Regions from separate parts of the Homo sapiens genome. Here region 1 is linked to region 2. A link means that fine-mapping ties the variant in region 2 to the plasma level of a protein whose gene starts in the linked region. Region 2 holds a variant in brackets. A gene starts in the other region. All regions are shown on their forward strands.

The links. PIP is the chance, under the fine-mapping model, that this variant and not a neighbour inherited with it causes the effect. Protein levels are from antibody-based Olink assays in UK Biobank. Linkage for the fine-mapping came from a reference panel and not from the study's own genotypes, which makes the PIPs less certain.
Region 1: CNTN5 starts here. The variant in region 2 is fine-mapped to the plasma level of the CNTN5 protein (UK Biobank, PIP 0.94).

Annotation. Positions count from the first base shown.
Region 1 is chr11:99,010,969-99,027,463 of GRCh38, forward strand. It overlaps CNTN5 (contactin 5), which reads left to right and starts at 9,981. Exons shown (of 25, transcript NM_014361.4): 1 at 9,981-10,302. RefSeq lists a silencer at 12,358-12,558.
Region 2 is chr9:94,358,539-94,374,732 of GRCh38, forward strand. It overlaps LOC100132077 (a long non-coding RNA gene), which reads left to right. Exons shown (of 3, transcript NR_033937.1): 3 at 947-2,410. SLC71A2 (solute carrier family 71 member 2) reads left to right here and starts at 16,031. Exons shown (of 12, transcript NM_032558.3): 1 at 16,031-16,194. RefSeq lists an enhancer at 15,799-16,194 and a silencer at 15,850-16,194. The variant G/T (reference allele first, on the strand shown) is at 3,374.

The sequences.
Region 1 (16,495 bases), not on the chromosome of region 2:
GCATGATCTCCATGAAGCGCTCCTCCCCTCCATGCATGTTGAGGAGCACGGCGTTCACCGTGTGTTCCTACACTAGCCTGAGGGTATCTCTGTTAAACGATATTGAACATTGCATTTACATGTCTGGACTATAAACTCCTTGAAAGTAAAGATGGTGTATCTTTGCATGTGACACAGTTGTCATGGAATCAGTCATTTTAAAAGTTTGTTAAAAGAAGGTGTGGAATTTAAAAATAACAATCTGTATTAATTACCAAATCAATCTATCATGTAAAAAATTGAAATATGCCTATCCAAGTAACAGTGGCATAGAGAACCTCGGGTTACAATCTTGTCAATAAAAATTCATTTCAGAACTCTTTCCTAAAATATATAGTTATTCAATAATACTTATCGTGAGAAAAAAAATCCCCATATAGGAAATAGAAGGAAGAAATATTTACTCATGTAAAGTATAATTTGAGCAACAATTGGAACACCTTTGTCTTTTTGCTCTTTTTAAACTGTTAATTAATAAGAAAATTTTATATTAAGAAGGCTTTTAGTTAAAATTCAAATTGCTTTGAGAGACGTAACAATAAACTCTTTTTTATTTTGTTTGAGCTTTTATATAAGAGTGTAGATACTTATTTGGAAATTTTATTTTATAGGAAATAATCTTAACACTGATTTATAGTGAGAAAAAGAGGACATAATGTTAACTAAAATAAGCCACATGCAGAATGAAAAATACTGCATAATCTCATATGTGGCATCTAAAAAATAGTCATTACTGGGGCAGGGCGGGGAGTGCTGGAAATGGGAAGAAGCAGGCCAGAAAGTACAAACTTGCAGTTATGTAGGACGAATGCCTAATAAATAATAATAAAAATAATAAATTGCACAGCATAATGATTGATAGGCTAATTTGCTTAACTATAATAATTATACACACATACATATACACATGTATACACATGTAAAAAATCTATATCTCTCAAAGCATCATGTTATACATCTTAAATATATACAATAAAATATCCTAACTCAAATTTAGGTACTTTGAGAAAGACAAGCTTAATGTTCGTGACTATTTCTACTAGATTCATTTTTGCTGTCCGTAAGCAAAGCCGTACCTCCACTAAGAACCTGGGTCCAACTAAGATGTCAGAGAGAATACCTCCTAATTCTTTCAGGCTGCCATGTTAACATTTCTTTAATATTAATAATGATTCCTGTGCTTTCATTTATTCAATATGTGTGTGCATTATCTGCAGTTACGGGTTAGTGAAGTATGAAGCACAAACATGTTTTGCTCCATATCAGAATATGAAAGCCAACAATTTAGACTTTAAAAAGAAATGTATTTTCCATAGCTTCATACAGAGCGTATTTTCATATTGTAGTAACTATTGCCATTGAGAACAAATCAGGATAAGCTTTGTGTTATTACCAACTACCATTGACCCTTAAATAATGCAAGAGTTAGAGGCACCAACTCCCACACAAAAATCTGCATATAGCATTTGACTCCCCCACAGCTTAACTATTAATACCCTACTATTGACTTACCAAGAACATAAACAGTTGATTATCATATATTTTGTATGGCGTATGTATTATATATGGCATTCTTACAATGAAATAAACTAGAGAAAAAATGTTAAGAAAACCAAAAGGAAAATAAAACATAGTTGGTATTTATTAAGTGGAAGAGGATCATCTCATAAAGACTCATCCCCAGCCAGGCGCGGTGGCTCATGCCTGTAATCCCAGCACTTTGGGAGGCTGGAACGGGCAGACCAATTGAGGTCAGGAGTTCGAGACTAGCCTGGCCAATATGTTGAAACCCCTTCTCTACTAAAACACAAAAAGCCAGGCTTGGTTTGCAGGCGCCTGTAGTCCCAGTTACTAGGGATGCAGAGGCAGGAGAATCGCTTGAACCCGGGAGGTGGATATTGCAGTGAGCCGAGATCCCGTCACTGCGCTCCAGCCTGGGCAGCAACAAAGTGAGGCTCCCACTCAGAGAGAGAGAGAAAAAAAAAAGGCTTTGTCTTCCTGTTGAGTAGGCTGAAGAGGAGGAAGGGGAGGAGGAGGGGTGTCTCAGGGGTGGCAAAGGTGGAAGAAAACCTGTGTATAAATAGAACCGTGGAGTTCAAACCCGTGTTGGTCAAGGATCAACTGTACTCTAAGAGAGTAGAAGTTGGAACTCTCATTCAGGCCATACTGAACTAGAAATACCATTCGACCCAGCCATCCCATTACTGGGTATATACCCAAAGGATTATAAATCATGCTGCTATAAAGACACATGCACACGTATGTTTATTGCGGCACTATTCACAATATCAAAGACTTAGAACCAACCCAAATGTCCAACGATGATAGACTGGTTTAAGAAAATGTGGCACATATACACCATGGAATACTATGCAGCCATAAAAAATGATGAGTTCATGTCCTTTGTAGGGACATGGATGAAGCCGGAAACCATCATTCTCAGCAAACTATCGCAAAGACAAAAAAACAAACACCGCATGTTCTCACTCATAGGTGGGAATTGAACAATGAGAACACATGGACACAGGAAGGGGAACATCACACACCGGGGCCTGTTGTGGGGTGGGGGGAGCGGGGAGGGATAGCATTAGGAGATATACCTAATGTTAAATGACGAGTTAATGGGTGCAGCACACCAACATGGCACATGTATACATATGTAACTAACCTGCACGTTGTGCACACGTACCCAAAAACTTAAAGTATAATTAAAAAAAAAAGAAAAAAAAGAGAAGGAAAAGGTTGGGGGAAAGGTCTGCAATTCTATTTTGGATGTTGAGGAGAAGATGAGTGGGACAGCTGCAGCTTGCTCACTTTAGAGGGTTGGCACAGTTGTGCCCTGCTTTGCCAAGAAGAACACGCACAAGGGATAGCTAACAGGCAAAGTAGACCTGGAATAAGGGATGAGGGCTTGGAGTGGAAATGGCCTATAAAGTCTCAGTCTTCCCAGTGAGTGGTCCATGAGTCCGTAAGTCAGGTAGTTTTGCCCTTATTTTATTTTTTATTTTGTAAAAATTTATTTGTATAGACTTAGAAGTGCAGTGCGGTTTTGTTACATGCATATATTGCCCTGTGCTGAAATCTGTGCTTTTAGTATAACTATCACCCAACTTAAAAAAAAAAATACTATCTGGCTAGAAAACTGATTTTTCCATTATTCTTGTTATATCCAAAAGGTCTGGTTTTAGCGACTATTCTATTACTGTTTTTAAATGTCTCTTGGTCAAATATACAGTTTTCATTAATACAAATACTTTGTTACACATTAATTGTGCAGATTTCCACTGGAAAATGACCATACTTTGTATCCTTCCGGCCTTGTCACTGTTGTTGGCATTATTCTAAGGCTTGCCGTGAATACAGAACACCACTGCTGTCATTTTTCAGTAAGCATTGCCATGTTTTTCTTGTCTCATATTGGCTTCCAGTGGGTTCTGATATGATTTCTTCTGCTCTGGATTCTTATCAGTATCTTGCTACCTCATTAGCAAGCATCGTTTAGCAGAAACACCTGAGCCGACATGATGCCACCTTGCTCAGCCTTTTGCCTTTCTTTGGGACTGTCCAACCTAGCTTCCTTTCTCTTTACTACAAGAAGACCGTCAGCCCTTTGTGAGCTGATAATTAATAATCAATTAAGGTTTGATAATAAAATTGCACTATATTGTACTTTGGCACCTGAAGTAATTTATTTTCATAACACCAGGAGCAGCTCATCACCAATTATAATGAAAGTAGGTTCACAGTCTATGATTTTTTTCTTTCATATAAAATTTGTGTAACCAGAAATAATAAGAGGTGTATAAAAGAAGTGTCATGTAGCTATAATACATTGATTAATATTTGTTGTCACATTAAGTGGGCTTGGGATCCTTACAAGAAAGGTGCTATTTAAGCATAAAATATTGGTGTTGTGTCTGTACTCGCATAGCTTATAAATTATATCTTGAGAGTTCACAGACACAAAGCAAGTTTTTACCATTGTCAGCAAGCAAAGCCAATGTAGCTGTTGGAGAGGGAGCCTCCTGCGTCATCAAAAGAATTCCCAGCTGAGCCCTGATCCCCTTATCACTACCATAAGTGATGGTCGATGGTAGTTCAGGTATAAAGAACACAGTTCCAATTCCAGGTGCCAGGCTGAACCTGATATGGTAACAGGGAAAAGATCTTCTAACTCATAAACACAGAAAACTAGATATAAATAAGGATTATGGCAAATAACTCGGATATAACAAAACGCAGTCTCTTCTGAAAAAAAACCAAAAACCAAAAAACAGCATGTGTGAAAACAATGTATTTTCCTCCAAAACTGCAGGTTGTTATATGCCAATTAGCAAGTTGAATAAGATATTCAGGTAAAACACTAGAATGTGAGATTATACATTTGTATACAAAAATTTTTGCCAAAATCTCATATGTAAATTTATTCATCTCTGTGCAGTTCTTAAAGTAGTAGGTTCCTAATAAATGTCAATTGAATGAACCATATATCCTGGTGAGTATATGCAAATGCCACAAACTGTCAATTAAATTTAATCTTGTATTTTACCTTGCATTGCACTTGTGCTAAAACTATTCCCCATTAATTGGATTCTTTATATGTGAGGTATGTTAATCTGATATGATACAAACAACTTGTTTTGTGGTGTTCTAATTCTTTTATTCAAATTAAAATGGGGATTTGTTTAGTGAACAAGTTAAGAACACTATGGTGGAGGCACTTTACTTAGATTTGTGTTTCATTAGCTCATTAATACAGAATTAAACATTTCATCTCAAGCATGCTTACATGCCTAGTGTATACTTAGCCCTCAACAAATGTTAATAGCTCCTGTTTTGCCACTGAGTGTAAGGGTACCTTCGAAACATTCTGACATTTTGCAGTTTGCCAATGTATTTATTAGATACTTCATGTCATATAATCTATACAACTTGTCTTATAGCTTCAACTGCTAATTTGGGGTTCCTCTCAGTTCTCTAAAAAATCGGAACATCCTTAGGTCAGAACTTAAATGGCATTGCTAATTAGAGCATGAGTGCCATCTAGTGGTAGACATGGCTAACTACAGGCTTATTGGTGAACAAAAAAAAAATAGGTGGTGAAAATGTTCTGCTTCTTCATTATAATGCAGTCTCTTGGAGTTAGTCTCAGACAAACAAATGAGACATCCTATATATACGCTACTCAGCCAATAAAAATTTAAACACAAAGTATATCAGATTGAGGGGTGGAAGAATTTAGTTCCTGGTCCACAGGAGGCATACAGTCTAGTTCTACACCTAAAGATCTACACAAAATGTTTTAAGCTGGATTCTAAGTACATTTTGGAAATATTGTAGATGAGACCAGGAATGTCTAATATATAAAGGTGAGAATCATATTTGATAGCAATATTTTTGAAGGATGATTATTTTGATGGAGGGCCAAATATCAAAGACAGGTCAAGTTAATGTACCTGACAGACTTGGGAGACAGGGAAGAGATGGGAAATGATCAAGATGCAACACACATATGGCCATTCTTTAAAACCATAAAGAACAAATTAGACTAATTCTAAGAAACCATTAGACATTTTTATCCCATACTGAGAAGAATGGTATGTAAACAGTGACAATACAGAGGTATTTACCTGGTCATGAGCAAATGAATCTTTGGTTTTGTTTCTTTATGGAAACAACTTTATATCCAGAGGTCTTGGTGAGAGAATGCTACATAAAAGAAAAATTAGACATCTGTAAAGGTAAGTGAATTAAAACTGATAGAGATCCTGAGACTTAAAATATATCCAAGAAAAAAAAATAGAAATGCATATCTAAAGGAATCTACTGGATGAAAACTAAGTAAACTTTACCTTTAAATTAGTAAGATTTCAACTTTTACTTCTATTTTCTAAAATCTTAATTAACTGCAAATGTTTATGGTTTGCATAAATAGTTGGACCAAAATGTCACAAAGGGTGAGCATAAATTCCACCTACAGGAGATTAGATATTTGCAGCTTCTGTAAGTAAGAGTTGGTACTGTGACCACCAAAAGCTTGACCACCACAGTTGAATTAGAGCTCCTCTCTCATACTTCTTAATGGTTTTGGTTGCCGATGTTATCAAGACATCCACAAAGTAGACTATGTTCTTTAGCGTTGTTTACTGAAGCAGCTGTTAAATTAATTAAGTTGGTATATTTTCCAAGTCTGATTAAGATATGTTTACTTCTGCTTTCACAAAACAGCTGTGATATGAGTACTGAGACACATCTTCTAAGAAACTCAAAATATAATTAAAATCATATTTTGTCCAGTTCAAGTAAAAGTTTACTTTTGCTTCTTCATGTGTTACTTTGCACTTATAGGGAATACTGGCATATATTGAAAATGCAAGATTTTGATTCCTTTAATTTTTATCTTAGTACTTACCCATTCACCATTATTGGTAACACATTAACATAGAGGATTAAAACATCAAAACAGAAAATGCAAATGCTAAAAGAAGCTCCAGTAGGCAAGGCAGATGATCCAAGAAAGATGACTGATCTAGACATGAATTCACCATTGGTCTGCTTCCCTACAGTTATGCTATGATTTGATGGAACATAATAATAGTTATGATCTGTTAACTAGAACCTAGAACTTATCTGAGTCAAATGAAGGGAAAGAGAAAGGAGGGCATGATTTCAATAAAAATCTGTTACACAAATAAGACAAAAGCTCAGAGGCACCTCAACTGCTACAGATGTGCTGCATCTGCTTGCTTGCCCATTGGGGACGATGAGATAAAGAGATTAAGACATTTACACAAAGATGGCTAGACAACAAGATCAGATCAGCAACATGACAGCTAGGTTGAGGTGTCATAACCATAGCATAGAGAAAGTGACCTACTGAACCACTTACCCCACTTACAAACAATGTTTTAATTAACTTAATGTACAAATGATATTTTACCAGGGTACAGGATGAGCTGGTTAATTCAAAAATGTCATTAGCATCAAACAGAGAAAACCAGTGATCTTTTAATAATGCCATTTTATTAAGAAAACAGCATTGGAATTTAATAATGGGGCATACATACTTTTATATCTTTTAAAGACAAATCTTACATCAAAACAACTATAACTTAAAATCCCATTCTCACATGTCAATAGTAGAAAATCTTGGTCATGGTATGTGAAAAGATTTGATGTTTACTTGGAAAACACAAGGTAGTTTGTTTCTTTTTAGTGGAACTCTAACAAGGAGTTTTGTTTGTTTGTTTCTTATTTTAAGCACTGTTGTTTCTCTAATTCCAGACATTGACCTGCTTAAACCTGAACACTGTGGATATAAAAGGATACAGAAGTGTACCTGATCTATAGAGCCCTTACTCTCCAAGCAGAAAATTGTAAAAATATACAGTACATAAGTTAACTCCATAACAGCAAAATTCTAAAGAAAGATGAGTCAGATAGACTAACAGTTTGTCTGTTACATATATAGATATTAATAGGGAATATATAATTGTATATTATTACAAATTAGAACATTAAAAGTCATAAAAGACATGAGAATAAATATAGTCACTCTTTCTGGGTCCTGAATGAAGTGTAGCCAGGTAACCTAGTCACCCCCAAATAATGATTGAAGTCAACATTTTAAATTTGAACTGACAGAAATAGACCTTACTATTTTTAATTAAACAGATTCAACGTTTCCTTTCTCTCCCTCTAAAGCATCAGATAACTTCGCAAGGAAAAGTGCTATTACATTATCTACTTGTTTCAAAAATATATTCACACCATAGTCTTGTGATAATATTGCTCTCTTTATAAAAAGTAGAAACATTAAAAGCTTTTATTTAGTTCTTGCTTAAGAAAGGAGAAATATTTAGTCCATTTACATCATGTAAAAGGTAAATTTTCTTGTTCATGTTAATGGTAGGAGGGCACCATGAATCATGTGACCGATAGCATTTCCTTCTTTACATTGGCTGCTAACAAAGTTAATGGCAGACCTAGCACCATTTGTAACAAAAACATCAATGCAGTTTTCTCTATAAACCTCATTTCTGGCTTCATCTTATCTCTCCTCCTATCACTTTACCGTTTGTCTTGATCTCACTGACCTACATTTTTTATTCATTTTTTTAAACTGAATAGATTTTTATAAGCCAACTTACATCCTTTCTAGGGCAAAGCTAGTTGAAAGAAATTATGTGACATAATGACTCAAAATGCCCAAATTATCGGATCATGGGTAATATAGAATGGTGTTCTAAGAAGGGAAGAGAACTTTCAGAAAGCTTTCTACACTCCCGATCCCTCTTTCAGGCTGCATGTGCTCAATTATACACTTTTAAAGGCAAAAACCTCATCGAACAATAAAAAGAATGCGTTAGAGCTCCTACACTTTGAATTTATTTTGTGATGTATTTAATGTGGTTATAAAAGTCCTGGTAGTTCTCTCTGTGAACCGACAGCCTGACAGAGGAGAAGAGCCAGTGGGGCAGAGAAAAAGCCACAGAAGGGGAATCTCCACAACGATCCCTCAGTTAACACATAAAGAAGATAACCTAGTTACTGGAAAGCAGGAACACGAATATAAAAAGTATGGAAGAGTGGAGAAGTATTAAATGCACACAAATTTGTCTTTGCTACAGAACAAGCAATCAGCCTAGATCCTGAGGATAGCGATTAAAAGCAGAGACTGGGTGTTTGTACATCATTGGATGAATGAGAAGCAGCCAAGAAACAGGAAAAGACTAATTTTAATTACCAGAAAAACTGCAAGAGAAAGAACACAGGGCTAGTGGTAGACGGCTTCCAGCTACAGGCTGCCTGGCACTGTACTCTCCTTGCCAATTAGAGCCAGTCAGACCCCATCGGGGGATTCAGTGAGCAGAAGAATCAGCGTCAGTCCAGGGTCAGGCTGCTCTCAAACACACATGAAAAACGGACACCAGCGGACACGGGGTGCGACCCTAGACTCCCATGCAGTTTCTTATACAGACACAGAGATAGAAAGCAGTACGTGGGATTTCCTTTCCATTAAATACAGGTGCAAACCACATTCTCTATGGAAATATATTGCAAAGGAAATGTTATATAATTTATTTAACAAATACCCAATTACCATCAGCCCAATCGTGGGAATTGGAAAACGACTCAAAGACTGAGAGGAAAAAAAAAAAAAAAGTAGAGAGGAGGACTGGCAGAACAATGGCACTAAAGCTGCCACACTGTGGATTTACTACCTGTGTTATTTTTCCAATTACAGCCATTGTAATATAAAAATTCCGAAAAAAAGGTTGCTGAGACCATTCCTTCGCTTTTTTTTAGAACTGAGTCAACACCCCAAATCAAAGAGAAATATAAACAGGCAGAGCCTGATAGTCCTTAGATGAAACGCGTAAGTGCAGAAACAAAAGAGAAGTGCTTCCCATTCAGGACTTAAGAAAATTCTGCAAAGTGAAAAAGTCCACTCTCAAACCGACCTAAGTGAACGCGTCAGTCTGTGCTGCTGCTGTCAGAGGTGTGAGCCGGGGACTACAGGAATCAGAGTGAAGACAGGAGCGGAGGAAGGGACTCTCGCCTGGATCTCCCGTGCCGACTCCAGCCAGCACGTTTGCTTTGTAATCTATGAATGTTAAATACGGAGGGGTTGCAGAGCAGAAACGCTCGGGGAAGGGGGGCAGGTCCTCTGTACTTAGCAGGGAAGGAAAATGCCGGTTGACTAGTGAGACGAGTGGAGAAACACAGAGCACCCTCCGGGAGGCGCACAGTTCGTTAAGCCCAGGGACATGCTCAATGAACCTTTGCAGCAAGAGGCAGTGAGGCGCTGGACGCGGGCGCCGGTGACAGCGCGGGCGGCCGGGGAGGGGCGAGGGGCCGCCCCGGGAGGACACAGCCAGTCAGAGGCGCGGGGCGCAGGGCGCGCGGACGCATTGGAGGAAAACACGCGAGCCCCAAACACACCAGCCGCAGGAGGCGCCGCACCTACTTCCCAATATAACCAACTACGGCGTGGGGGAGCGGAACTGCGAGAAGGCGGCAGCCAAAGTGCCATTAAAGCTCGGGGCGGAGAGGATGCGTTACCTGGGTCCCGTCTGCTGCGAGAGGCAGGGCAAGCTGGAGGATTCCCTCTGAATGATTAAGAACTCCGCAATTCGCCTCTGCCACAGGCTGCAAAGGACCCGAGGAACCGCTCTCTCTGAACTGTGCTGATGGGCAGGAGGATGGGAGACAGGAATTGAGAGTCACAGAGGAAGGACAGTGGAGTCTGGCATCTTATTGGTAAGTGGCTGACATTCCTTTGCCAGTGACTGCGTTCTGTGATTGTGCACTTCATCTCCCAGCCACTTAGGATTTTTGACACACTCTGTTCTGCAAAGCCATCCTTTCTTGCCATGTTGCCAGAATGTAAAAACTGTAAGATGAAGCTTTTTTAAATAAAGGAAACAAAACACGACTTTATTTCCTGCTGGGATTTTATGGCAAAAAGTTGAAACAAGAGTAAATATAACCTATTTGTATATCTCCTAATGCCACCCAAAATAAGAGTAAGCAATTCCTACACGCAAATTGCAAATTGTAAGGCAATAAATGCCAGGATAAAGTGAGGATGTTTCTACAAAAGAAACTAAATGTTTGGAAAATAGGATGCCGTTCTCAGGTACTGAATGTATGCCTTATGTTTGAGCAATGAGTTTCCGAGACTAAATAATTGGGCATCTGGCATTGCAATAACTTGTTAAAATTCAGTAGGGATGCTCTATAAGTGGAGTTCTACAAAGTTCGTGAGACTGAGAAAAACTGTATCTTGGATTATGCTGAGCTTTTTTCTAAAGGTTGTATAGGATTGTGATAGATTAAAAAATTATGTTCAGACATCCTTACCATGTTTTGTAGGGAGATATACGGAAGAGAATATCAATTTGCACATACACAAACCTGAGAATTACTCTGATGACCTGAACAATAAGTTGTTTCAACTATATTTATTTGCGAAAGAACCAGAATCCACTAAATATTTTAGAATTATATTACTTTTAAATCTTAGAACTGTTCTCCCAAGAAAAATACAATTTCATGTGGTAATTTAAATGCAGGTGAGAAGCAAAAAACTTTTAAACTGTTGTATGTTCAATGCCTTACCTACATTTCATTCATTTGTTTCTTAATTTAAAAGAGAAAATCATTTAGAGGGTCAATACTTCTACTTTGATTCTCAATTACGACTGTGGAAATAAGGATGAAAGAAGTAGATGTTCATTAGAATACTAGCATTTAAAATTATAGACAAATAGTCAAATTTAAAAATTAATGCAGATATCATCGATTACTGTTGAATTGCAACAGAATTACAGAAGTACTTATGACCATTACAGGGAGCTTAAAGGAGTTCATTATGATTAATATTGTGACTCTCAGTATTTTAAAAAATAATGATTAGGTCATTAACTGTTTTTGAAAATGCCTGTAGTCAATTTTGAGCAATTCTCATGGTTGCTTGCATATTCTCCTATTTCATGCTCAAATTATTCTAAGTTAAGTGGGGACTAGTATGCTGAGTCTTAAACTTAACAGGCATAAGTTTACTCTGACTCTAATCGAAAAGAGGTATGAGTAAGAATATGTCATATAAAACTAATGATAACAAATTAAAGATATTACATAAAAAGATCATCTAAGTCCATTAAAGGGAAAAAGGCAAAAAAAATCAGAGTTAAAGTTATAAAAAGGGAAATTCAATATAAAGAATAGAATTTGACAAATAGCTGGAGTGTGAGGGAATGATATTAAAGCCTATCTGAAAATAGAAAGTCAGTGAAATGATTATTACAAGTGCCAGTGTTTTTGCTTAGGAATTGGTGTATCCTTTAAATTATTTAAAACTTCTGAAAATTGAGAAAGGAGGAGAAAAACTGCTAATTTTAATTTCTTTCTGATTCCATAGACAACTGAACAGAAAGTTAGATTCTTAAAAGTTATATAAAAATATAATCCCATAGATTAACTAAATGCCGGACTTTGTCTATAAGTTGTGAGGCACATGCACACCAAGGTGCTTTTGGAAATACATCCAAAAAGCTACAGTTGTGGAATTTTTAAATGAATAGCTGAAATACCTGAATGTTTCTCAAGGTGAGCAGTTAGTACTTCAAGTATTAGGTGGTCTGAAACAATTCTTAGTCAGGGAGCCAACCTGAAATCAAATCATGAATCTATACATAGAATATGTTTATGTAAGATGAATCATTAAAATTAGTAGCATGTAAAAATTTACTTCAATCTTATGTGTCCAATTAAGTAGCGCTATCTGTTAGAAATGTACCAGGTTTGGCTGATATGTATTTCTTTAAATGTCTCTTTTACTTCACAGTTTAGAAAATCTTGACCACTTTCAGGGTAGAGGTAGGAGTGTGATTGTCTGTCACAGCTGACTTAGCAATATGGACCAGAGGGTGCCAGTAAAGGGCAAAGGGCCCGCATAGGCTGGCCAAAGCATTTTGGAGTTTGTCTTACTTCTAGACAAAATAAAGGCATAATTTGTGAAGATTAAAATAAAAATGATGAAAACTTCTCTAGATGGCTGTAATACTGTGAAGATGATTTGACTGTAGAGAGTTTGATTGGCTAAAACAAAGTTGTAGCAGAGTTTAGTGTCTCCTTCATCAGTCAAAAACTAATCCAGAATTTTATGAGGCTCAGATATTTACAATATTGTAATTTGCCGAATCCATTCTTTCTCATGTATCTTGATTACCTATTGTCTTTGAACTTTCTTTTAAAATACGGGTTTTTAAATTTTTACCAAGTCGTTGGAAATTTATTTCTCTTACTTTAAATAATAAACTCATACATTCATGTAGTTTGTTTTCTTGAAATTCTGACTCCAGGAGTTGATTTTATCTCTCTTTCTTCTTTCTGACAATCCAAGCATAAAGTAAGAGAGTAATATGTTTCTCACAAGATGTTAAGAACCGTGTTGTAAGGCTGTGCTAACATGTTACATGAACTTCTTAACACTTTATAGCAGGAAAGAGACTGGTCGGAAGCTCAAAGCGGTAGAATCACTGCAGAGGTCTATTTTCTGAGCATTTGTGATCAATAACTCCACATTAGAGGCTGGTACATTTTAAAAAGTAATGAAGTATATAAAACTCCTAATGCTTAAGATTTAAGATTAAAAACTATTATGAACTATATTCCATCTCCCTACCCACTCAAGTAAGAAATCCTGTTTTATGATTTTTGGAGATTCAAATGTGTATTGTTAGAAGTGTTCTAATAAACTGAATATTATTAGTTTATGTTTTTTCCAGACACTTAAACAGTGTTTTAGTTAATTATTTTATTTAAATTGAATGACACAAAATATAGTGTTTTAATACAGTGGCTATAAAAGCAATTTTTAAAGGGAAACATGAATTTGCTTTTTAAGAAAACTGGTTTTACAATGGATTTCTTTCATCAAAATTATTTTGAAGTATTGAATTGAATCCCAAGAAATTGACACAACACTGTATAACTTCAGTTATGTTTTGCCTATTATAAATATTTGCATAAGCTAATTGTAGATAATTTTATGTCTATTAATCCCCATAAATTAAAACACACGTCTTTAGTTTTATATCCCAGAGTAGTGCATGTTATATTTTTGACATTATACCCTCCTCAAACATAAGCTCATACGTGTTACAAAGCTATTCAAAGTATGGTAGTTTCTCTTTTCTCCAGTGCAGGGAACTGGGAACTTTCCAGAGAGGCCACAAAGTAATTGTGAAAAATAAATCAAGATTGTCTGTTTTATGGAAATAAAAAAAAGAATCTCATTTTTAATCTAATATAAAATAGTGTGAGATCTATCATTCATGAGAATCTTAAGAAATTACAGTCATATTCATTTCCTGTGTATTTCTTAAGCTAGAATTTCTTGTGATCACTGCCATTTTTAAACGTTTCAGAAAATGTTTCATTAGATACATTTTAAAACACGGGTGTAAAGTTGTTTTTTCTCTTTTTCTAAGTGGTTCTTAAAAACTCATAATGATCTAAATAACTTGTTGCCCAATGGCCACTTTTTATTTATTTATTTATTTTCACAAATGACCTTCTCATAACAGATCCGACAGGACTCACCTATTTCCTCTTATGCCAGTCATGTTTCCAAATATTTCTCACACTCAATTTGCATAGAGCGGAGATCTAGATAAAAAGCAAGAAGCCAATACATTTTATGAGTTTTCTATGAAAAATATTGTTACAGTTAGTATCTTTACTAGAAAATATGGAGCCAATTAAAGGGAAAGTGACTAAACTGAACAGAATCCAAATAAGCAATTGCATTTTAGGCAAGGAATATTTCATTTATCTGAATGATCAAAAATTCTCTTTCATAACCATTGACTGGAAAAGTATAATTATATATTTAAACATTTTATGAAGGGCGTAGAGATGTTCTTCATAGGATTCTTATAGCTGCTAACAACCCAGAAAGGAGAACATCTCATCTTCCATTACTATCCAGTAGTAAACGTAGCATATGTTTAGGAAGAGAAATGTTGCTGATTATATAGGTGATAAAAAGTTGATTGAAATTCTCTTCCTTTTGTGAGTTATAATATTGGCAGAAGCATTCATCATGAGGCTAAAAATACTGAGATGCTCTCATCGAGAGATATTATAATGATAGTAATAAAGTATCTGGAGCTGCAACCAGGTCTATTAATGTATTTTTACAAATATTTCATTAGTTGCAGGAGTTTGTATTTATCATATAAATAGTAGAGAAATGGGATGTTGATTTTGTGAGAAATTTACTTTTAAGTATATAAAGTTTTATCTTTATTTTCTTAAATAATTAATGTTATACTTAGAAGTATTAAGGATTTTTTTCTGAAATTAAACGAAATATAAAGGCAATACTCAAGAATTTAGAACAACTATTCTAATTCACCTAGGTTCTCCCATTTCAGTTACATGCAAGAACTTACTTTCAATTATGCAATATTTGTTGAGATACTATTGTTCTTGAGCCTTTAAGTGTACTAAACTAGACAAAATCCCTGATGATTAAAAGTAATATTATTGGAAGTTACAGGTGAGTGACAACAGGAATTTTTAAAAGAATTTTATTGTTTTCTAAAAATACATTTTTATTTAATTGGCAGTTTCATGATCATTAAATATGATAGGAATTCCTGGGCACTGGAACAGATTGACCCCAAATATATCTGAAAACACTGTGAAAAGTCTCATGTTTAATCTGTTAGGTATTGTATTTTGCCTTATTTTGTTATTTTAAAACCTTCTTCTTCATATTCTTTTCTAAAAGATATAGACTGGCTTAATATTATCTCCCATATAGCAAAAATTATTAAAACAACTTGTTAGTGACCACTATTTCTTTTCTAATTTTGTATTTTCAATGATAAGAATTTCAAAAGTTATGGCATTGATAAGAGAATTGAAACTCTAAGCTTCATAATTCTATTTAATACTCTCTTCCTCCTTCTGTGATGCTGTTATTCTAATGTGTGAGCTGGTGAATGAGAGTTCATGCTAAAATAACCGTATCATTCAAATTCAGCACAAATCTCATGATTTATTGATGATTAATTGTGGAACCCTTAGGAAAAAGTGACAGAATAAATACCATTTAATATTGGAAGGGGCCATGCGAGCTCATATTTTTACCTACTCATAATAAACAAAGTTTCTTCACTAATAAGCAAGGGTATAAAAAGGTGAAGTGATGTGTTCAACATTGCAAGTAATGCAAAAGATGGAATTAGAACCCACATCTCTTAAATTTGAAGATCAGAGCTTTTTATGGCTTATACTTCATTTTAGACTGTGGACATCTTGATTATTTTTGTATCTATTCAAATCAAATCCTTATATTAGAATATAAATATATGTAATTTCCTTGTTGCCACTGATTATACATAAAACATTGTCTTTTAAGATTAGAAATTTAAGATCCAATTATATTAACTCAGTGGAAACTGCTATACCCGCATTCTCTTAACCAACAACTACAGAACTTAATTGCTAGATGTGAACTTTTTCACAATGAACTTGGTATGCACTCACCAGCTACATCAAATGACAGAAGGGGTTTTTTTTTTGACAGTTTTAATTATGAAACTTGGGAATCTTTTAGAGTATTATAATGAAGTAGAAAAAAGGATTTAAGTGATTTTATTCCATGGCATATATGTAAGGGAACATCCATTTGCCCTATAATACTTCTTAATTTTTCCCAGACTGGCAGGTTTTCTTTTTTTCCTAGTAATAAATGTTTAATGGAAGCCCTAAATCAAACAGAAACTCAGCAAGAAATGTAGATGAGAGTATATTTCTGTGTTTGACAAATTTTGGGTAAACTTTAATTCATGGGCTTTTTAAAGGTAGTAGCGATTTTAGAGCATTTGATAATAAAGCAGAGAATATATCTCTTGAAATATGCACTACTTTTCTG
Region 2 (16,194 bases):
ACTCACAACCGGGCAGACAGAAAGTAGAATGGTGGTTATCAGGGATTTGGGGGACAGGGAGTGGAAAGTCTATAATGGACTTGGAGTTTCAGTTTGGGAAGGTGAAAAAGTTCTGGAGATGGACAGTGGTGACGGTTGTCCCAAAATGAGAATGTACTTAAATATTACAGAACCGTGTACACTTGGAAATGATTAAAATGGGCCAGGTGCGGTGGCTCACGCCTGTAATCCCAGCACTTTGGGAGGCCCAGGTGGGTGGAACACTTTGGGAGGCCCAGGTGGGTGGATCACCTGAGGTCAGAAGTTCGAGACCAGCCTGGCCAACATGGTAAAACCCCATCTCTACTAAAAATACAAAAATTAGCCGGGCATGGTGGTGCATGCCTGAAATCCCAGCTACTCGGGAGGCTGAGGCATGAGAATCGCTTGAGCCCGGGAGGCAGAGGTTGCAGTGAGCCAAGATTGTGCCCCTGAACTGCAGCCTGGGCAATAGAGGGAGACTGTGTCTCAAAGAAAAGAAAAAAGGCAATGGTTAAAATGATAAATTTTTGTTATGTATATTTTACCACAATTTTTAAAAAGAAATGAGGTATTGATACTTCATTGACAATGTAGATGAATCCAGAAAACATTATGACAAGTGAAAGAAGGCAGAAATTGAAGGTCATATGTTGTGGTATGGTTCCAATTATATGGAACGTCCAAGATAGGTAAATTCATAGAAACACAAAGCAGATTGGTGGGTACCAGGGGCTGGGGGAGGAGGGAACAGCGAGTGACTGCTTGATGGGTACGGGGTTTGGTCTCCTTTGATGTGAAGAAAATATTTTAGAACTACAGGTGATGTTTGTCACAACCTTGTGAAGATACTAAATGCCTCTGAAATGTGTGTTTTAAATTGGCTCATTTTATATTATGTGAATTTCACCTCAATTTTTTGCAACAGAGACTCCTTCAGGGTGAGCAAAGGCCTGGAAAAACCTGTATGCAGATAAAGAAAAGGAAAGAAAGAGATAATCAGTGCATGCAGTTGTCAGCTGGCTGGGACCTGAGGAGAGTCACTTGTGGAGGCAACTGGTCTTTATCCCCATTGTCCGGTACAAGGCAGGCATTAATCCTGTGATCCTTATCTGAAGCTCAGGTTTGATTTTATTCTTTTCTTAAGTACCTACTGTTATCCCCAAGCTTATAATAATAGTTTAATTGTTACAGCCAGTATCTCACCTTCAGAAGTAAGATGCTTAGGAAACCAAGACAAGGAACTGTGTGTTGCAAACAGCATCACCCTGGAGAAGAGGTGGCAGGAGGTGACCTACAGAAAATGGAGTAATAGCCTAGAGCAAGAAACACAGAACAAAAGAGAAATGAGGGGTTAGGCAACCTCCTGGAGCACCAATGGGACAAGCACATATTCAGGGGCCTCCTAACAGACTCGACTTCCAGCATCCTCAGATGGTGCTAGACACGTTACATAGACGTTCAAGAGTAGAGAACTCAGGGACTTCTGATTTATATCAAGAAATGCATACACAGCAGACGTGTGCCTGTGGAGTGGAATTCTGGAAAAGCTCACAGCCCAGAACATAATGCAGACTCCCCCAGCCACAGCACCTTCCAAACCTGAGAAGAGTGCTGATTCTCCATCTGAGCACCCATTCTCCTGCAACATCAGGGGAGAGGATTTCACCTAAGGGTCAGACCAGCATCTCCAAACCCAGCTCCCCACCTTTGCCTGTTGGTGGCACTTGTGGGAGAAGGGGAGATGGTATGAAAAGAGCCACAACAGGAGTCACCTGGACAGGGTGGAGCTTGATGGAAACTGACATTTGTGCCCATTGGAGGCAAATGTAGAATTTGGTATCTTCCGTAGCGTCAGGCACATGAAACTCTCCAGTGCCCATGACTTTTGACAGTGACTTCAGAGCACATCTGGGAGACCCATGTGGCCCAGGCTCCACACAGGCAGGAGCTCAGCTTCACTCACAGCAGGATTCCTAGTGCCAAGAACACCATAGGTGCATAGCAGGTGATCAAAATAATTGTATGTGGCTGAATCAGTGAGAGGTAAGAGAGAGGACTTGATCCTAGCTGCAAACTAAGAGACCTCATTAAAACCTAACATGTGGCTGGGTGTGGTGGCTCACGCCTGTAAGCCCAGCACTTTGGGAGGCCGAGGGGTGGATCACCTGAGGTCAGGAGTTCAAGACAAGCCTGGCCAACGTGGTGAAAACCCATCTCTACTAAATATACAAAAAATTGGCTGGGCATGGTGGCAGGTGCCTGTAATCCCAGCTACTTGGGAGGCTGAGGCAGGAGAATCACTTGAACCCAGGAGGCGGAGGTTGCAGTGAGCCGAGATTGCACCACTATACTCCAGCCTGGCAATAAGAGCAAAAGTCCGTCTCAAAACAAAAAACGAAAAAACAAAAAACACCTAACATGTGAGGCCCAGCATGGTGGCTCAGACCTGTAATCCCAGGATTCTGGGAGGCTGAGGCTGGAAGATTGCTTGAGCCCAGGAGTTCAAGACCAACCTGGGCAACATAGCGAGACCCTGTCTCTGGGAAAAAAAAAATTACCTGGGCATAGTTACAGTCCTAGCTACTCGGGAGGCTGAGGCAGGAGGATTGCTGGAGCCCAGGAGTTTGAGGTTACAGTGAGCTATGATTGCACCACTGTATTCCAGCCTGGGCAATGGAGCGACACCCTGTCTGTCTTCAAAAACTATATATATATGGTGTATGTGTGTGTATGTATGTGTATGATATCAGAAAAAAATAACCTATTCATGGTGGGGGAAAAAAGAGCCTGACTTTTGAGGTGTATAAGCGTGGAGTCGGGTTCAAATCAGGCTCTGATCTTTCTGGCTCTGTGATATGGGGCAGGGCATATTACCAAGCTCAGCCTCAGCATCTCTACCTGTGAAATGGGCTTGATTCAGTACACCACACAGGGCTGCTGTAGTATGTATGAATTAATGTTTGTGAAATATTTAGCATGGTGCCTGACACATGGTACTCAGTAAGAAACAACTATTGCTATTAAGTGCTTTGCACTTTGGTTTTCACAGAGCTAACAATTTTTACTGTCTAGCTTTGTGTCTTTGAAAGATTTTTGAGCTCTGAGAATGACCTTTTAAGACCTCAGCACTTCTAGAAGAGGTCACACTTTGAGCTTCAATAGCTAGCATTTTTGTCAATTAGTTAACAGTGTGCTGAAAGCAAGTCCCTGTAGAGAGTGTTCACGGGCATGAGCCACAGGGAATACAATGTGAGGCCTGTGGAGGTGGCAGCTGAGGATGTCAACAGGGAAAGCACAGAGTACCAAAGACAAAAGTTGCCCAGGACAGTTCTGTGTTAGCTACCTGGTGGCA[G/T]CCTGGACACCCAAAGATAGAGCTGAAGACACCTCTAATACAAGAGGCGGATGCCCCGGAGACGTGGCTGATTCCTTGGCTAATTTCCTCAGCCCCACCGTTGTGCAGCTTTGTGACTTCCTGGAGAGCCTACATGCAAACAGAAAAGTCCCAGGATAAAGAAATGTGGATATTCCACACATTTTAAAAAGACCTGGAGGGATGAAGAGGACAAGCTGTCCCAGTAGGCCCCGGACTGCCCTGGTTTTAACACTAAATGTCCGACATCCTGATAACCCTTACTCCCAGGCAAATCAGGCCAGTTGGTCATCTAATTGGAGGTTATCAAAGGAGGTGGGTTTTAGCATCCTCTTTCCTTTCCTGTTACATTGAGACCATGGGGTGCTATTGAATAAACTTGATTCGGTTTCTTCAAAAAAAGCCAGAAATTGATCTAATAGGTTTTGCTCATATTTGGTAATTGAATTGGACTGTATACAGTCTGCACGTTTACCTTATTTTCCATTATATAATGGTACCAAATATCACAATGATTTTCAAAAATTAATGCTTTTAGTGATGGATTACTAGGTGTTGAAATGCTTTATAATATACTTATGAAAACATTTATACAAATAATTTCATCCTCCACATGACATTTAGAAAAGTTTAGTCTGGCTGGGTACAGTGGCTCACTCCTGTAATCCCAGCACTTTGGGAGGCCAAGGCAGGTGGATCACCTTAGGTTAGGAGTTCGAGACCAGCCTGGCCAACATGGTGAAACCCCGTCTCTACTAAAAATACAAAAAATAGCCCAGTGTGGTGGCGCACACATGTAGTCCTAGCTACTTGGTAGGCTGAGGCAGCAGAATCACTTGAATCTGGGAGGCAGAGGTTGCAGTGACCCAAGATCACGCCACTGCATTCCAGCCCAGGAGACAGGGTGAGACTCTGTTTCAAAAAGAAAGAAAAGAGAAGAGAAAAGATGAAAAGGAAATGTTTAGTTTGAAATTCCGTTACCGAAAGTTCTCGGGGGTTGGGGGAGGTGGGAGGCAATATCTTTTTGCTATTATATTTCTTATAGTGCAGTGTCAGTGAAACTATGTCATCCTTTGTAAAATCAATAAAATCCCTGTCAATTTATCTGGCCATTCGATACTTTATCATCTATAATTTTTCAAGACATCTATTTGGTTGAAGTGTCTTCATCAATTGATGGACTGTACATCAGTCTGGTTTGGCAGTTTACATTGTATTTTCCTCTGAGTTTATCTTCTCTGTTTCATGGACTTCACTAGGGTCAGTGGTTCTTAAGTTGGATGATAAGAAACCCCAATCTTCCATACAGGGTACAGTTTGGCCATTGGTTTTAACTCAGGTCATGGCATAGCAGTTGCATTTCTATGGAAGCAAAGCTAACCTTGGAAATGGACTCTAATCAAAGACTCACTAACATCAAACAAGTCATAACCACATTAAGTAATGTCTTAAAGGCAAAAATCAATAGTAATTCACTTTGAGCATTTAAAGAGTCAGGCTCTCAGTCACTGTCTTTGAGATTATGAGAGCATAGTAGAAAACAGCTTGTCCAACTGCCTTATTTAATAGATGAGCTCATAGAAATGAAGTAACTCAGTCGAAGTGACATTGGTTTTCATGGCTAAACACAGGAACTGGAAAATAATGGGAGTATTGTTAGAAATTACAATAATATTGAAATTTGACTTCAAGCTAATGAGTCAAGTATGAAGATATTAACTTCACAAACTCGATAGCAAACATGTCCTAAGAGATAAGACAATTTTATTTAGCACTATCTTTTTTGTAAAAGATTTATAATAAGAATAAAGAAAACAAAGTTTGTATGCTAAGAGAACAATGCAATACTTCCATAATTTCTTGAACAACTGTAGTGAAGCCAGAGTATCCCAAGCTTCCCCAGCCTGAAACAGTCTACCACATGAATGTGAGGCTGTAGCCTCACACCTCCGAGCACCTCCTCACCATCCACATCTGCTCATACCGGTGTTTAGTCCCTACCTGAGTGTCACCTCGTCTTGTCCACGAGGACAAGCCCAGTGGACTCAAGTGCAAGTCCATCTGTATTCTTGGGCCTCTCTCTCATGATGGTGGCTTTCACTGTGATGCTTCCATGCCCTTTGAGCCCTGAGTGCAAGGCCAAGGTGCCCCCACAGCTTCCTAGTTGCTGCTGAGTTCCCCACCCCCCAGATGGGAGGTATGCACCTCCCATTCTGGGTCTCAATAGATCACCTGGGCCCCGGTCCTCTGAAAGCCTATTGAATACAAGTAAGTAACACAAGGCTGTTTTGTTCATTACCCCTATAATTCAAGAAATCCAATTTGCGAGACAGAATTGACTTGAGGCCAAAAACTCCAGGGTCATTCTGCCCCAACTTGAATCCTGGCACCACTTACTGCTATGTGATCTCAGATGCCATAACTAATCTCTCTAATTCTATTTCCCTGCATTTAAAATGCAGGCAATGCCCATGGTTTGCCCTAATGACTCAATGACTCTGTATTAAAGGGCTTACTATTGGCCTGTCATGTCTCAATAAATGTGTTACTGTTCTTTCTCTGTGTTGACACTGGATGTACAATTGCAAATAAAACACACACTTGTCTTGGGGATGCTTGCAGTCTAGTGGGCCAGTTGGATTTATTTCAGTTCAACTATTGGTTAACAGATGAACAATAAAAAGTATTGCTGTAAAAAAGATGAACGTCCAGAAAGAAAGAGTCTGTCTGGTACACAAATAATTGTGATAAATACAACAAAAAAAATGTGCACAGGGTAAAAAGTAACAGGGAGAGTGACCAGGAAACTTTAAAATTATAGTAATGTGATCCAGGCTACATTCACTGGCATTTCCCAAACACTCTCCACAGGGGAACCAGGATGGGATCAACCCTAAGACCTTCTCACTCATCCAACTAAAGGCAGTGAGGAATGGGAACAGACAGAAAGGGATGGTTTAAGCCAACACTCAAAGTGTTAAAATCAAACCAGTGGAAAAGGATCAGCTGACCAGGCTGAAGGGAGAGGTAAACTAACCAAATGAGGTACCACATTGCTCAGCGAGTCAACAGCAAAAAGACAAGGGTCTCGGCTGTGGCTTCCACTGGAGTTTGGAGGTACGGAATTTTCCTCCTATGCAGTGGCCTTCAGTGTTGTGCTTGTCGATCCTTAAAAGAATGTTGATCAGGTGCGGTGGCTCGTCCCTTAAACCCCAGCACTTGGGGAGGCCAAGGCAGGAGAATCCTTGAGGCCAGGAGTTTGAGACCAGACTGAGCAACATAGTGAAACCAACCTTGGCTCTACAATGACAACAACAACAACAACAACAAACTAGCTGGGCATGGTGGTGCACGCCTGTAGTCTCAGTTACTCTGGAGGCTGAGCTGGGAAGATTGCTTGAGCCCAGGAATTTGAGGCTGCAGTGAAGTATGATCATGTCACTGTACTCCAGCCTGGGTGATAGAGTGAGACCCTGTCTCCTAAGGAAAAAAAAATGTTAATAAACTGTTTAACGTCCCCCCCCTACACTTTTAAGTTGACATTTACATTTATCATTAGTTTGTGATAAAGAATGTATTTTCCAGGATATTGTAGACTGGCTTTCAGTATATTTTTGTCAGACTTTTGAGGCCAATTTGGCTCTTTTGCTTAATGGAAAATGGGAGTGTTTAGGTCTCAGGGTGTGCTCATGAGCAGGCTGGGATGGGTGGGAGGCTTTGGTGAAGTGGCAGAAGGGTGATTGGACTGGGAAGAAAAGAGGAACTTGCAAAACAGAGACACTTCAGGGAGCAGGTTAGCTGTAGGAAAGAGTACACACCTAGGACGAGGGCCTGGAAATTGGTCATCTAAAAGCTATCCATGGCCACGTAACCCCTGAAAAGTCTTTCCATATTACAAGGGGTATACATACCCCAGTTTGAACACCAAAGCTTAAGTTCTCTCAAGTTCACAGTATATGCCAGGTTGAGTGAATTAAAAAGTATAGCATCAGGGTAAACAATGATAGTGCTAGGCAAAATTACTCAAAACGTGGAAACAAAGTAAAGAGATTCCACTTCCATCAATGTCATGCTATAAGACGATTGTCTGACAAACCCATCCAAGGGTCTTCTGACTCTCAAAGGGTTTTGACTATTTATTTTTGATGTTATTACTGGTAGGCTCAGATATTTTACAGCCCTGTAAAGTTAGAAATTATCTCCTAAGAAACTGATGAGTTGGTTTTCTTTTCCATGGTGGAAAAATGAGATCACCCCAACTGCTACAGTTTAATTGCCCAATAGGACATTAACTAGGGCTGCATCTAATGTGCCAATATTAATTCATCCTTCCATTTTGTTCACATTGACTGTAATAATCCTCGTTTTTCAAATTCTCTTTTGAACCCACTTTATGGGTTCCCTTATTACCGAGATAAATAAAATGTTGGCATGTGCTCACTATCTCTTTGGATAAGATTATGTTTTTTGTTTGTTTGTTTGTTTTTGTTTTTTGAGACGGAGTCTCGCTCTGTCGCCTGGCTGGAGTGCAATAGTGCAATCTTGGCTCATGCAACCTCTGCCTCTCGGGTTCAAGCAATTCTCCTGCCTCAGCCTCCTGAGTAGCTGGGATTACAGGCACCCACCACCAGGCCCAGCTAATTTTTGTATTTTAGTAGAGACGAGGTTTCTCCATTTTGGCCAGGCTGGTCTCGAACCCCTGACCTCAAGTGATCCACCCACCTTGGCCTCCCAAAGTACTGGGATTACAGGCGTGAGCCACTGTGCCCGGCAAGATTATGTGTTTTTTTGTTTGTTTTTTGTTTTTTTTAAACATTCAGAGAACTATATGTTGACAGAAATCTAAACAAAGTGTACAGAAGGTGCAAGGAAAGGTTTTGCAATACGGAAAGGAAACTTGGGGAAAACCTGGTGGAGACCATACCTGAGCTGAGTCTTAACAGGAGTTAGAATACCTATAAACAGGAATTAGATAAATGGCTGGAGGAGAAGGAGAAAGAGGCTATTTCAGACTGAGGGAGCCTGACAGATGATGGGAGCCCAATGATGTGGGTGTAGAAAAATGCCAGGAGATAAGGCTGACAGGTGGGGAGAGGCCAGAGCCTGAGGCATTCATGTCATGCTAACGCACCAGAGCCTTTTCCTTCATGAAAACGGGATATCTTGAAGAATTTTTAGCAAGAAAGTGATGTAGTAAGATAGATTTGTATTTTAGAAAGACCATTTTTTTCCCCAAACTTTTAGGTTCAGGGGTACATGTGCAGGTTTGTTATATAGGTAACCTAGTGTCATGGGGGTTTGTTGTACAGATTATTTTGTCGCCCAGGTACTAAGCCTAGTACCCAATAGTTATTTTTTTGAATCCTCTCCCTCCCCCCACCCTCCACCCTCAAGTAGTCCCCACTGTCTGTTGTTCGCCTATTTGTGTCATTGAGTTCTTATCAATTAGCTCCCACCTATAAGTGAGAACATGTGGTATTTGGTTTTCTGTTCCTGTGCTAGTTTGCTAAGGATAATAGCCTTTAGCTCCATGAGTGATCCAGCAAAATATATCATCTCATTCTTTTCTATGGCTGCATACTATTCCATGGCATGTATGTACCACATTTTCTTTATCCAATCTGTCATTGATGGGCATTTAGGTTGATTCCATGTCTTTGCTATTGTGACTAGTGCTGCAGTGAACATTCACATGCATGTGTCTTTATGATAGAATGATTTATATTCCTCTGGGTAATATACTCAGAGATGGGACTGCTACGTTGAATGATAGTTCTGTTTTTAGCTCTTCGAGTAATCGTCACAGTGCTTTCCACAATGGTTTGCACTAATTTACACTCCCGCCAACAGTGTAAAAGCATTCCCTTCTCTCTGCAACCTTGTCAGAATCTGTTATTTTTTGACTTTTTAATAATAGCCATCCTGACTGGTGTGAGATGGTATCTCATTGTGGTTTTGATTTGCATTTCTCTAATGATAAGTGATATTGAGCTTTTTTTCATATGTTCATTGGCCGCATGTATGTTTTCTTTTGAAAAGTGTCTGCTCATGTCCTTTGCCTACTTTTTAATGGGGTTGGCTTTTTTTTCTTGTTGATTTGTTTAAGTTCCTTATATTAATAGAGCCTGGATGTGAGACTTTTGTCAGATGCATAGTTTGCAAAAACTTTCTCCCATTTTGTAGGCTGTTTACTCTGTTGACAGTTTCTTAACTATGTAGAAGCTCCTACATTTAATTAGATCCCATTTGTCAATTTTTGCTTTTGTTACAATTGCTTTTGGTGAGAAAGACTAATTTTGTGTGAAGAGTACAATGCATAAGTGGAAATGAACCCAAAGATGTACAGCAAACTGCTGAGAAATGGGAAGGGTATGAACTAAGGCAGTAAGCAGGCATAGAACAATCTGACATATAAAATAAATAGGGCACAACAGTTGCTTTGATGGAGTGGTGAAAGAGATAGGAGGTGAGAAAGGGCATAAGCAAGATTTGATCATTGACTATGCGAGGGTGACAAGGAAAAAGAGGGGCTGACCTACATCAGCAATTCCTGCTTCTGGCATAGAGATGGTATCACTTCTGTTGCGAAGACTACAGGGACAGCAGGCAGCATGCTGTATATATTTCTAGCATGTGAAACGGAAGTAGGGCAAGGAAAAAAGTCCTTACGTTCCTACTTTTTACATGGTTCACACACATTGTAGAATAAACCCTTTGCCTGGGTCACGTAAAATTCTACCTTTTTATTATTATTATTATGCTTTAAGTTCTAGGGTACGTGAGCACAGCGTGCAGGTTTGTTACATGGGTATACATGTGCCATGTTGGTTTGCTGCACCCATTAACTCATCATTTACATCAGGTATTTCTCCTAATGCTATCCCTCCCCCTGCCCCCCAACTCACAACAGGCCCCCATGTGTGATGTTTCCTGCCCTGTGTCAAGGTTTTCTGTCCTTGTGATAGTCTGCTCAGAATGATGGTTTCCAGCTTCATCCATGTCCCTACAAAGGACATGAACTCATCCTTTTTTATGGCTGCATAATATTCCATGGTGTATATGTGCCACATTCTCTTAATCCAGTATATCATTGATGGACATTTGGGTTGGTTCCAAGTTTTTGGTATTGTGAATAGTGCCACAATAAACATATGTGTGCATGTGTCTTTATAGTAGCATGATTTATAATCCTTTGAGTATATACCCAGTAATGGGATCATTGGGTCAAATGGTATTTCTAGTTCTAGATCCTCGAGGAATTGCCACACTGTCTTCTACAATGGTTGAACTAGTTTACACTACCAACAGTGTAAAAGCGTTCCTATTTCTCCACATCCTCTCCAGCACCTGTTGTTTCCTGACTTTTTAATGATCGCCATTCTAACTAAAATTCCACCCTTTGTATAAAACATTTGCCCGGTCCATTTGACTCTGAATCACCTTGGTATGTATAATTGCCAAATATACTTTTTTTCCAGATGGCAATTCACATCTGCCTTTTAGCTTAGTGCTGAATGGAAGGCAAATAATTGAGGAGGTTCAGTAAGGATAGTTCTCCATTAAAAACAAAAGAAAAAAAAAGAGAAAAAAAAGCGCCAACCTAACTGAATACTCTCAGATAGGACTGATAATGCATTGCAAATACTGAAAACAAGTTTTCATTAGAACATTATCTTAAACTAAAATCTGTTGCCAGTCGCAGTGGCTTACCCTTGTAATCCCACCACTTTGGGAGGCCAAGGCGAGCAGATCACCTGAGTTCAGGAGTTTGAGACCAGCCTGGCCAACATGGTGAAACCCCATCTCTACTAAAAATACAAAAGTTAGCCGGGCGTGGTGGTGGGCACCTGTGATCCCAGCTACTCAGGAGGCTGAGGCATGAGAATTGCTTGAACCTGGGAGGCGGAGGTTGCAGTGAGCTGAGATTGTGCCACTATACTCTAGAGTGACAGAGCGAGACACCGTCTGAAAAAACAAAAAAATTATCTAGGTGTGGTAGTATGTGCCTGTGATCCAGCTACTTGGGAGGCTGAGACAGGAGAATTGCTTGAGCCCGGGAGGTGGAGCTTGCAGTGAGCCAAAATTGCACCACTGCGCTCCAGTCTGGGCGACAGAGCAAGAATCCATCTCAAAAAAAAAAAAAATTATCTGGGTGTGGTTGTATGCACCTGTAATCCCAGCTACTTGGGAAGCTGAGACAGGAGAATCGCTTGAGCCTGGGAGGCAGAGGTTGCAGTGAGCCAAAATTGCACCACTGCACCCCACACTCCAGCCTGGGTGAGAGAGCGATATTGCATCTCAAAAAAAAAAAATCTGTGAAAATAAGTTTATCTTAACACATTGTTATAATTGCAATTACAAAGTAGTGCTCGGAACAAACAAAATTAAGTGAAGTGTGTTTTAAACATTTAGACAATTATCGTAAGACAGTTTGTTATCCTTTCACACAGGGAACAGTAGACGGGTGGAGAAACAGCAACAAAGATACCATGTGAAGGTATTGCTTTATACACCTTGGCTTGGATCTGGGCCATGCAGGTGCCAGCTCTGGATTTCCTTCCCAGCAGACAACTGCCAGTACAAGGAGACTCACAGACATTATTGAACAACCCAATTGCATCATACTTTAAAAAAGATTCAAATTATATATAAAAAGTGATGAATTCAATACCACTTCCCCCTTTCTGTTGATTACAAATTGACCACACAAGGGAATATTTAGGGTCTTGTGGCAGTAGATGCATAACTACCTATTTCTCTTGAAGTCCTGGTCTCAAGTGATCCTCCCACCTCGACCTCCCAAAGTGCTGGGATTACAGGCCTGAGCCACTGCACCTGGCCCATCCATTTGTCAAAATCCACAGAACAATACACTGCAGAGAGTTAACTTTATGCAAATTAATGTGGGATCTTAGGATAGAATGGCCAGCACGACAAATGAACTTAATTATATTACAAAGGTATGGCATAACCTCACCAAAGTGAGTGGGGAAAAAATAAATTGAGTAAATAAATAAAAGTTTGATTGATTACTCAATCAAAAAAGAATTGATTTGAGTAAATAAGAAAGAAATTGAATTGATTTGGAAAACTGTTTTGACTGGCTACTTTCAGGATAAAAACAAAAAGAACCGTACATAAACACTGTAGTTGGAAAACTTGCTTCCACAGAGTTAGAAATTCTGAAACTACATGTATTGTTAACACACACACACACACACACACACACACACACACACACACACACAAGTAGAGAGAGAGAGAGCACAGCACCCAGATCCATATCATTGCTGGGAGAATTAGTGGTGCTGCCCATAGACTCTACTCAGAAAGGACAACTGGAAGCTTGTGCGTGGTCTCTCGTGGACTCTGCTGCCTCTTACCTTTGCTATTTTCATCTGTATCCTTTCACTATAATAAACTGTAACTATGAGTAAAATAGCTTTTTGGGGTTCTTCTAGTGAATCATTAAACCAGAGGATAGTCTTGGGGATTAAAGACTCTCAGTTATTAGATACCCTATTTTAGCATTAAGTTTAACCCAATCTTAAAATCCAGCTTTAAGACCAGATGATTAATTTATTTAAAGCGAAAAATCTCAACAAAAATATTAAATAGAAATCAGCAAGGCTAGGCACGGTGGCTCACGCCTATAATTCCAGTACTTTGGGAGGCTGAGGTAGGAAGATTGCTTGAGCCCAGGAGTTGGAGAACAGGCTGGGCAACACAGTGAGACACTGTCTCTACCAAAAATTAAAAAGGTAGCCAGGCATGGTTTTATGCACCTGTGGTCCCAGCTACCCAGGAGGCTGAGGTGGGAGGATCACTTGAGCCCAGGAGGTCAAGGCTGCAGTGAGCTGTGATCGCGTCACTGAACTCCAGCCTAGGCGACAGAGCAAGACTCTGTATCAAAAAAAAAAAAAAAAAAAAGATCAGCAAATTGTTTGAATTTCTCCTCTTAGGAAAAAGAACTGTATTAGCATATGTTACTCTGATATAGCTGATATGGCAATATCAACCATCAAAGATATAATGGTATACTTATCTGGTATAATTTATAAGTTTGCCTCAGTAGAATCACAGCCTATTCTGTAGTTAAAAATATACACTGCTAGTATTATAGCAAACTTTAGTGGCTTTTGTGATAAAGAAAATAAACTTCAAAAAACTCCATTATTCCCTCTAGGATAACTTTATTGTAAGTCTATTTAAGAAAACAGTCCAGGCTGGGCATGGTGGCTCATGCCTGTAATCCCAGCACTTTGGGATGTTGAGGCAGGCGGATCACTTGAGGTCAGGAGTTGGAGACCAGCCCAGCCAACATGGTGAAACCCTGTCTCTACTAAAAATACAAAAATTGGCTGGGTGTGGTGGCAGGTGCCTGTAGTCCCAGCTACTCGGGAGGCTGAGGCACCACAATCGTTTGAACCGGAGAGGCAGAGGTTGCAGTGAGCTGAGATCGCGCCACTGTACTCCAGACTGGGCAACAGAGCAAGACTGTCTCAAAAGAAAACAAAAAAACAGTTTACAAACTTTTCTGTTTCATGGATACAGGAATCAGAAACTGATACCCAAGCTCATAAGTGGCATAAACATAATACTCAAACAGCATAACATAATACATATATTCCCTCTGTGTTTTGAAAACTATTTGTTAAAACAATCATTCAGAAAAGTAGACAAATCAGGCTGGGTGTAGTCGCTCACGCCTGTAATCCCAGCACTATGGGAGGTCGAGGCGGGTGGATCACCTGAGATCAGGAATTCGAGAACAGCCTGGCCAACATGGTGAACTTGTCTCTACTAAACATACAGAAGATAGCCAGGTCGTGGCATGCACCTGTAATCCCAGCTACTCGAGAGTCTGAGGCAGGAGAATTGCTTGAACCCAGGAGGCACAGGTTGCAGTGAGCCGAGATCGAGCCACTGATCTAGGCTGGGCGACAAAAGCGAAATTTCGTCTCAAAAAAAAAAAAAAAAAAAGAAAAAAGACCAGGCCGGCTCGGTGAGCCGAGGGGGGCGGATCACTTGAAGTCAGTAGTTCAAGACCAGCCCAGCCAACATGGTGAAACCCCGTCTCTACTAAAAATACAAAAATTAGCCGGGCATGGTGACGCGCACCTGTAATCCCAGCTACTCGGCAGGCTCAGGCAGGAGAGTCGCTTGAATGCGGGAGGTAGAGGTTGCAGTGAACCTAGATCACGCCACTGATCTAGGCTGGGTGACTGTAGCCTGGGTGACAGAGCAAGACTCTGTCTCAAATAAATAAATAAATAAATAAAAGTAAAGACTTCTGCAAAGTGTGTGTGTGTGTGTTTGGGGGTAGTGGGTGGGAAGCGAAAAAGAGGCTTTTTTTTTTTTTTTTTTTGGAGACGAAGTCTCACTCTTGTCACCCAGGGTGGAGTGCAGTGCACCATCTCGGCTCACTGCAACCTCCGCCTCCTGGGTTCAAGCGATTCTCTTCCCTCAGCCTCCCAAGTAGCTGGGATTACAGGCATCCGCCACCATGCCCGGCTAACTTCTGTATTTTTAGTAGAGACGGGGTTTCACCATGTTGGCCAGGCTGGTCTGGAACTCTTGACCTCAGGCGATCCGCCCACCTCTGCCTGCCAAAGTCCTGGGATTACAGGCGTGAGCCACCACGCCCAACCTGAAAAAATTCTTAAATGAAATGACTTTAATTCAATTAAAATTACTAATCCTGTTAATAGAAATAATTTTATTCTTTTTTCTATTGATGTTTGTAAAAAGATTTTTTTTTTTTTTTTGTGAGACAGAGCCTCACTCTGTCGCCCAGGATGGAGTGCAGTGACGCTATCTCGGCTCACTGCAACCTCCGGCTCCCAGGTTCAAGCTATTCTCCTGCCTCAGCCTCCCGAGTAGCTTGGATTACAGGCGTGCGCCACCAAGCCCGGCTAATTTTTTTGGTGTTTTTTGTTTTTGTTTTTGTTTTTTAGTAGAGACAGGGTTTCACCGCGTTGGCCAGGCTGGTCTCTAACTCCTGACCTCAGGTGAACCAGCCGCCTCGGCCTCCCAAAGTGCTGGGATTATAGGTGTGGGCCACCGCTCCAGGCCTGTAGGCTTTTTTATATTTCAGTATTAGGTGCATATCTTTCAAAATAAATAAACATAAGCCAGGCTTTTCCAACTGCGTCCTACACATTCTACAAGATATTAATCATGTGTCAAGAATAAAAAGTGTTGTGTTCAAGTACGTTTGGGAAACATTGCTAGTATATTATTTTCTTCTTAGAGAACCATAGAAAAACTTGAGAGGTTGGCGGGTTGGCGCAAACCAAGACCAAAACTGAACTGCAATCACTACCAAACCCCCACGAGTTTGCCCCTCCCCGCTTGCTAGCCTCAGTCCAGATTCTCCGGAAAAAGAAATCAGTCGTACGGGCTCTCGAAATGACGTACTTCCCGCGCGCCGCGAAGTCCTGATGCCAAGGGGCCAGTCGCGAGGTAAAGGAGGGGTCTCTGAAGTGGGCGTGGCGTCGCTGGAGGCTACTCAGGCGCGGGACTCGTTCTCGAGGCGGGAGCTGAGGTGCGGGGCGGGGCCTCCTGCCCGGCGCCGGCCTGTGGGGAGGCGGGGCGGGGCACAGTCTCTTAACCGTGCAGCCCGCCCCTGACGCCGCCGGTAACTGCGAGAGTCGGGGTCGGTGCGGTTTGATAAGTGGTCGGTTCCTGGAGCTGCGGTCTTCTGCTAGCCTGATCCGCAGCTTCAGCCTCCGCCGCCTCCTCAGCCCTCGGCGCCGCCGCTGGCGCCGCCGCCTGACCCGCAGGCCGCCGCGGGCCGCAGA